Regions from separate parts of the Homo sapiens genome. Here region 1 is reported to be linked to region 2. The links are microRNA targets in miRTarBase. Many come from high-throughput screens and were not tested one by one. Region 2 holds a microRNA gene; the other region holds the end of a gene's coding sequence. Distances are from middle to middle.
What was found. Region 2 holds the annotated microRNA hsa-miR-181c-5p (AACAUUCAACCUGUCGGUGAGU, at 2,575-2,596, opposite strand). A microRNA usually pairs through its seed, bases 2 to 8, with sites in the 3' UTR of a target mRNA and lowers its output. Matches are read on the target gene's strand: a 7mer-m8 pairs with bases 2 to 8, a 7mer-A1 pairs with bases 2 to 7 and ends in A, and an 8mer does both.

Region 1 (4,000 bases), 2.0 Mb from region 2:
AGTTCTCCAACTTGCAAAGGAGGACTGATATTTTGCTAAATCTTTGTAATTCACCAATTTATCTACTATACTTTGTTGTGGAAGTTTATTCATTTTTCTCAAGCTGTAAGAAAAGATTTTCCCTATTTCTTTTCCCAAAGCTAAACCCACCAACATCACTGACTTCCAAAATTAGTGGCCTTCCTGGCATACGAAGATCCTTTGGGCCTGTGCTCCAGTGTCCTCTTTGGGGTGCTCCTTGGGCTCTTTGTGAAGCATCAAGACACCCCAATATCTAGCCTAATGTCAGGCTCTCCAGTGTGTCCTGTTCATCACCCTCACCCTGCACTTCTATTGTCACTGTCATTGGCTATTCCAACACTGTGCTTGCATCCTGTGGAAAGTCACATTTGGGGTCAAGTGAATGGTGTTGTTTCTACTCTTTGGTGAAAAGTATCAGGGTGCATTTGGCCTTCAATTCAGAAGGATGAGGCAGGGGTTGGATTCAGGTGCACCCAACTTTTTTTGTGTGTGTGTGATGGAGTCTCGCTCTGTCGACTAGCCTGGAGAGAGCAATGGTGTGATCTCAGTTTACTGTAACCTCCACCTCCCAAGCTCAAGCGATTCTCCTGCCTCAGCCTCCTGAGTAGCTGGGATTACAGGCACACACCATGATGCCCAGCTATTTTTTTGTATTTTTAGACGAGACAGGGTTTCACCATGTTGGCCAGGCTGGTCTTGAACTGCTGACCTCAAGTGATCCACCTGCCTCGGCCTCCCAAAGTGCTGGGATTACAGGTGTGAGCCACCATGCCTGGCCAGGTTTCACTGCCCTGTCTTCCCTGTTCTGAGTTACTTTGTGTGATCCGACAATCAATGACTCCTCCCTTCACTGATGTGGATACATTATCTGGGACTGGGTGTGTCACCTCCACACACAGACAGGGCTTGGTCAGTGATTGATTCTGCATCCTGTGGTGCCTAGATTTAGACTATAAGGATTTTAAATAACTGTTTCTGAAGAGCAGCTTCACTGGACCTTACAGGAAGTGACAGAATTGTTCTAGCCATTGCATTATATATAAAAGTGACTTTTCCATGTTACCGTTAACTTTACACTGCTGAGATAAGCAGGCTGTTGACAAGTTAGCATCAACAGCACATTATCAGAGGAAGAAAGGCTTTTATTTAGACAATTTACACAAATTTATTAGCCTCCTATGACTCAGTAAAGCAATTTGAAAAAAATATAGCTTTATAAAGCGTAAATGAATTTATATATTTTAACTAAGGTACCTTCTAGTTAACAGTGCCCATACATTTTAGAAAATGTTTTAGTCTTTACAGAATAAGTAAGGCAAAAACAGGTCCAGAAGTCTATAGCTGACCTCCCCTCACCACAAGGCCAAGTTGTTTTTGTTTTTGTTTTTGTTTTTTCAGAAAGAGTTTCGCTCTTGTTGACTAGGCTGGAGTGCAATGATGGGATCTCGGCTCACTGCAACCTCTGCCTGCCAGATTCAAGTGATTCTCCTTTCTCAGCCTCCTGACTAGCTAGGATTACAGAAGCATGCCACCATGGCTGACTAAGTTTTGTATTTTTAGATGAGACAGGGTTTCATCATATTGGTCAGGGTGTTCTCGAACTCCTGACCTCAGGTGATCTGCCTGCCTCAGCCTCCCAATGTGCTGGGTTTTCAGGTGTGAGCCACCACACCCAGCCAAGGCCAAGTCTTTTACTGTTGGAGAGACACATGTTACATATCAGGCATATGAGATGATGCTCCTCAGTGATCATGATGGACCAGGACAAAAACAAGGGCATTTTGTAACTGTATTTCTAAAACTGATAGAAGTAAACATATTTCAAATCATAAACATGACGAAAATTTTTATCTTCTTACCAATGTGACTTGTAATTCTCATACATCCCACAGTCATTTATGTCTTCTGGTCATATTTATCACTATGGTATATTACACCCTTGCTGACAGCAGGTATGGCGCTGCTGGTTTTGGGCAAGAAGGTACTCAGAGATACATGAGATAACTTTTGGTATTATGAGTGAAAGAAAAATTAGGGTTGAGGCTGGGCGCAGTGGCTCATGTCTGTAAATCCAGCACTTTGAGAGGCCGAGGCAGGAGGATCACAAGGTCCAGAGTTCGAGACCAGCCTGGCCAATATGGTGAAACCCCGTCTCTACTAAATAATACACATAATTAGCTGGGTGAAGTGGTGCATGCCTGTAGTCCCAGCTACTCAAAAGGCTGAAGAAGGAGAATTGTTCAAACCTGGGAAGCAGAGATTGCAGTGAGCCAAGATCACACCACTGCACTCCAGCCTGGGCAACAGAGTGAGGCTCTTTCTAAAAAAAAAAAAAAAAAAAAAAGAAAAAGAAAAAGCAAAAGGAAAAAAAAAGAAAAATTACAGTTGAAATAAAAATTAAAGTACATAAGCATGAAAAGTAAAGTTTACATGAGGAAAAATATGCCTGGCATTTAATCCAGGTAATGCTGATTCACAATATCCAAATAATAACAATGTAACATTATAAGCTTGATCTAATACATGACACCAATGGATATTTTATTATAGCTTCTTAATTATTTAAAAAGAATAACATTTGTTAGTATACAGTTATTATAAACAGTTAATTGTTTACATTCATTATTTGTATTCAAAGAATCCTAGCCGATCTGAAGGCTTTCCCATACTGCTTACATTCATAGAGTTTCTGCCAAGTGTGAGTGCTTCCATGCATTTGAAGTCTTGAGGCTGATCTGACGGCTTTCCCACATTGCTTACATTGATACGGTTTCTCCCCAGTGTGAGTCCTTTCATGATATTGAAAAGAACTGGAAGAAGTGAAAGCTTTTGCCACATTGCTTACATTCATAGGGTTTCCTTCTGGTGTGTCTTTACATGTCTATGAAAGCAATTAAGCAAGCTGAATGCTTTCCCACAATCCTTACATTCATACGGATTCTCTCTCGTATGAGTCCTTTCATGTATATGCAAGGAAGAAAAATAATTGAATGCTTGTTTGCATTCCTTACATTCATAGGTTTCTCTCCAGTGTGTGTTTTGCATGTATTCAAACGATCTTGGCAGATATGAATGCTTTCCCACAATGCTTACATTCTTAGGGCGCCTCTCCTCTGTGCAACTTTCATGTATTTGAAAAGAAGAGAAATTATGGAACGCTTTTCCACATTTCTTACATTCATAGGGTTTCTCTCCAGTGTGTGTCCTTTCATAAATTGAAAGGTTCTTGACAGATCTGAAGACTTTCCCACATTGCTTACACTCATAGAGTTTTTCTCCACTGTGAGTCCTTTTAGATATCGAAAGGAACTGGAACAATTAAGGCTTTACCACATTGCTTGCATTTATAGGGTTTCTCTCCAGTGTGAATTTTTTCATGTGTTTGAAATAACTTGGCAGAATAAAAGTGTTTCCCATATATCTTATATTTATAAGGTCTTTCTCCAGAGTGCATTCTTATGTGTTTGTGTCCTTTCATGAAATCGAAAGTTCTGGACATATCTGAAGGCTTTCCCACATTTCTTACATTCATAGGGTTTCTCTCCAGTGTGAATCCTACGATGGATTCGAAGTTGTGAGGCAGATCTGAAAGCTTTCCCACATTCCTTACATTGATACGGTTTCTCTCCAGTGTGAGTCCTACCATGCAATTGAAGATTTGGGGCAGATCTGAAGGCTTTCCCACATTGCTTACACTCATAGGGTTTCTCTCCAGTGTGAGTCCTTTCATGATATCGAAAGGAACCGGAACGAGTGAAGGCTTTACCACATTGCTTGCATTTATACGGTTTCTCTCCACTGTGAGTTTTTTCATGTCTTTGAAATGACTTGGCAGAATAAAAGCCTTTCCCACATGTCTTACATTCATAAGGTCTTTCTCCAGAGTGCATTCTTATGTGTGTTTGAAAACTTGTAAGAGAGGATAATGCTTTCCCACACTGCTTACATTCATAAAGTTTTTTCCTAGAGTGGGTCCTTT
Region 2 (4,132 bases):
CTCTTTCCCACTCAGAGCCCTAACCAGGTGTGCCAAACCCAGGTAATCTGTCCACAGGTCAAAGGTCCCCATAGCTGGGCAGCATGTGCCAGGCGGAAGGAGTCACAGAGACAAGTAACCCTGCCTGGCTTAAGCTCCCTCCTTCTGACCCCTCTCTGCTGCCCCTTCCTTCCCCTCTCTGGAGCCTGGGAGTCTGTGCTGGCCGACCCTCCTTTTACCTCCAAGGGGGTGTGAAGAGGGAGGAGCAGGCTGTGGGAGGTTCCTTATTGTCACAGGGGGGCCTGGTGCCCCACTAATACTCCTCCTAAAGGGCTGTATGGCCTCTGGCTGTGCCGGGGGACTACAGGACACAGGGTGTGTGGGGGGGCATCCTGCGAGGTGCACCACAGCCCCCCGTACACACCTCCAGGGAATTGGGGGGCTACCCTGCCTCCCCTCCTTGTAGGAGTCCTTAGCCCTCCAGCCCCACTGGAGGATGGGGAGAATGGGTTGGAAACCCCACCCCCAAAGACTAGCAGTTACCAGTAACTTAAAGAAGTTAACTTAGTAACTTCTTTATAACTTTTTCTTCCTTCCCCTGGGCGGGGGAGTGGCCAGGTGCCCCTGGGTTCTTTGTGTGTGTGTGTGTCCAGGCGGGAGGTTGCTGATGCTCCAGCTGTCTCTGAAAGGAGTGTGGTAGTCCCAGGCTCATGGGCTGGTTGCGGGGGTAGGGGGGAAGGATCATGCCCCCCGGCCCCCAGCTCTGGTCTCCCTCCAAGAGTTTTCACATCGGTTGTCTTAGTGGAACCCCCATTGAATGGATGAGCAAACTGAGGTGTGAAGCCACCTGCCCATCCAGTTATTTATAAAGACATGCACCAGGCCAGGGAGTGGTGGCTCATGCCTGTCATCCCAACAGTTTGGGAGGCCAAGACAGGCGGATCACCTGAGGTCAAGAGTTCGAGACCAGCCTGGCTAACATGGTGAAACCCTGTCTCTACTAAAAATACACACACACACACACACACACACAAAATTAGCTGGGCATGGTGGCGGGTGCCTGTGATCCCAGCTACTCAGGAGGCTGAGGCAGAAGAATTGCTTGAACCCAGGAGGCAGAGGTTGCGGTGAGCCAAGATCAAGCCACTGCACTCCAGCCTGGGAAACAGAGTAAGACTCTGTCTCAAAACAACAACAACAAAAAGCACCACATCTGCCTCCTTCTTCTAGTTACTGGGGCCCCCTGAGGCTAGGTGCTGGGGAGGGAGCCCTTTCCTGGCGGGGGCTGCAGAGGGGTGAGAAAGAACCCTCTGGAGTTGGGAGGTGGGGGATAGCAAGTTGGGCTGTTAGGAGGGGACCCCTAGTACCTACAGGTCTTCAGTGTCCTCCCCGAGATGAGATCTCAGCTCAGTCCCAGGAGGGGAGGGTGTGCTCAGGACTTGGACACAGAGGAGAGACGCTGTGCCGCTTACACAGCTCATCCACCCATCCATTCATTTAAGAAACTTTTATTGGCCAGGCACTGTGGCTCATTTTGAGAGGCCGAGGAGGATTGCTTGAACCTAGGAGTTGGAGACCAGCCTGGGCAACGTTTTGAGACCCTGTTCCTACAAAAACACTTTTTCGAAATAAGCTAGGTGTGGTGGTGCGTGCCCGTGGTTCCGGCTACTGGGGAGGCTGAGGCGGGAGGATCAACGCTTGACTCCAGTTATTAGAGGCTGCAGTGAGCTAAGGTCACACCATTGCACTCCAGCCTGGGTGACAAGAGCGAGATCCTGTCTCTAATTTAAAAAACAAAACTATGGAGCACTCCACGGAGCAGAACTTACCACCCACATTTCAGAAAGGGGTTTTAGGCCAGGCAAAGTGGCTCATGCCTGTAATCCCAGCACTTTGGGAGGCCGAGGGGGGAGGATTACTTGAGGTCAGGAGTTTGAGACCAGCCTGGCCAACACAGTGAAATCTCGTCTCTACTAAAAATACAAAAATTAGCCCACTGTGGTGGCAGATGCCTGTAATCCCAGCTACTTGGGAGGCTGAGGCCAGAGAATCACTCAAACCCTGGAGGCAGAGGTTGCAGTGAGCTGAGATTGGGCCACTGCACTCCAGCCTAGGCAACAGAGTGAGACTCTGTCTTAAAAAAAAAAAAAAAAGGGGATTTTAGCTGCCCTGCCCCAGCCTGTTTACCCCCAACCCTCTAATATTTAGTCCCAAATCCAGCCAGAGCCCATCCAGATTCCAGACACCAGCTCTCCTCTCCAAAGAGGAGTGGTTGGGGTCAGGGCAAAAAACAGGCTGAGTGACTGTGGCGGTGGGGGGTCCTGTCCCCAGTCCCCATTCCCCTTAAGCCGTGTCTGGCCCAGCCACAGTGACATTCATCCCCCGGTGGGTCTGGCCTCAGTCCTCACAACCCACCGACAACAATGAATGTTGATTGTGACCTCGGCTGTGGCCTAGGGGAGGGGACGTGCCCAGGCTGGATTGGGGGCTCCCCAGGCCCCCCTAGATCTGGAAGGTCAGAGTCACCGGCAGGAGGATGGCAATTCCAGGCCTCAGGGTCCACTCAACGGTCGATGGTTTGCCTGAGCTGCCCAAACTCACCGACAGGTTGAATGTTCCCCCAAACCCTTGGCAAATTTTCCGGGACCTGGAGTCGGGGGTGGGGTAGGTGGCAGGGAACCAGAGAGCATGAAGAGGGAGAGGAGGAGAGAGTAAGGAACCCCTTTTCTCTCATGAAATAAACAAACGCTTTTCAGGTGCTGTTTGCACCTAGATCTGGGAAAAACACAAGGCAAATATAAATGCTAGTAAATAAAATGTAGCCTTTGCTATGGGGATGGAGATGTAGCAGTGCAGGGGAGTGCTGGCCTCAAGCCCGCTCCTTAAGTAATTCACAAAGTGATCCTGGAGGTGCAGATTACCCCCCTTTGTCAACTGGGGAGACTGAGGCCAAAGGCCACTGCTAGTCCGAGGTGGAGGAGGCATTCCAAGTGTTCCCGGGAAGTCTGGCAACGGAGGATCCTGGCCCCGAGGGCATTGATGCAACGTGGAGATAAACAAGCCATTTTAATACAATGTAATACGTTCTGGGAGCTTCACTGAGTTCCGGGCACGATGGTTTAGGAATCACAACAGCGTGAGTGGAGCGCTTGGGGGTGGGGGGTCGTCAGGTCTCTCCACTTTACAAGTGCACTGGGGCCCCACTAGACAGGGGAGAGGCAGGAGGTTCAGAGAGGGCGCCGCTCGCCCCGCGTGCGCGGTCACACAGCATCTGAACTCGGGCACTTCCGGAGGGAGTCCGCGCAGCCACGTGGGGGCTGCCCCTTGGGCCTCAAAACCGGCTGCGGCGCCCCCTCTCCATTTCCTCATCCCTCAAATGACCCCCAGTCCCTTCCTCCAGTGATCGCACAGAGTTCGGCGACCACCCCCCCGCCCCGGGTGCCCCCAGGCCTACAGGTACGCACCCCTATCTCCCACCCCCCGCAAGCCAAGCAGTGACGACCAGGGATGGGCGAGCGCGCCTTCGCCCCTGACCTGGGTCTGCGGACGGCCTAGGAAGGTGCACCCGGCATGGCCGGGTGCTGCGGCTCAGGCCTGTAATTCAGTATTTTGGGAGGCTGAGGCGGGAGGATCTTTTGAGCCCAGGAGATGGAGACCAACCTGAGCAACATAGCGAGATACCTGTCCCTACAAAAAAATTAGCTGGGTGTGGTGTAGTGAGCCTGTAGTCTTAGCTACTTAGGAGGCTGAGATGGGAGGATCGCTTGGACCCCAAGAGTTCGAGGCTCGAGGCTGCAGTGAGCCGTGATCGCGCCACTGTATTCCAGCCTGGGTCACAGGACGAGACCCCGTCGTCGCAAAAAAATAAGTAATTTCCTGGCCCCTGGCATTTCACCGAGGGGAATACTGAGGCCCAAAATAACCGCCTGGCATAACCCCAAGGTAGATGAGGGACCCCCAAGTGTGCCGAGCTGCGTGAACCACCCCCCCACCACACCCCTCACGGTGGTGGCAACGGAACCCGGCCGAGCCCCCGAGGACGCGCCCCCGAGAGCCCCGCCCCCGAGAGCCCCACCCACAGTCTGGAGCCACCAGCCAAGGCCCCAGCCCAGGCCCTGCCCCTTAGAGCCCCGTCGCTTTTGACCTGTTCCCC

Region 1: miRTarBase lists ZNF439 as a target of hsa-miR-181c-5p. Seed matches in the 3' UTR shown: 8mer at 3,195-3,202, 7mer-A1 at 3,112-3,118, 8mer at 3,030-3,037, 8mer at 2,946-2,953, 8mer at 2,864-2,871, 8mer at 2,695-2,702 and 1 more.

Annotation. Positions count from the first base shown.
Region 1 is chr19:11,868,019-11,872,018 of GRCh38, reverse strand. ZNF439 (zinc finger protein 439) reads right to left here. Exons shown (of 4, transcript NM_001348719.2): 4 at 2,533-4,000. The coding sequence ends at 3,450. It also overlaps the pseudogene VN2R14P. Among named protein-coding and RNA genes, the nearest start is that of ZNF69, 18 kb to the left of the region's middle.
Region 2 is chr19:13,873,189-13,877,320 of GRCh38, reverse strand. MIR181C (microRNA 181c) reads right to left here and starts at 2,622; the gene lies at 2,513-2,622. It overlaps NANOS3 (nanos C2HC-type zinc finger 3), which reads right to left and starts at 187. Exons shown (of 2, transcript NM_001098622.3): 1 at 1-187. The coding sequence starts at 72. It overlaps MIR181D (microRNA 181d), which reads right to left and starts at 2,446; the gene lies at 2,310-2,446.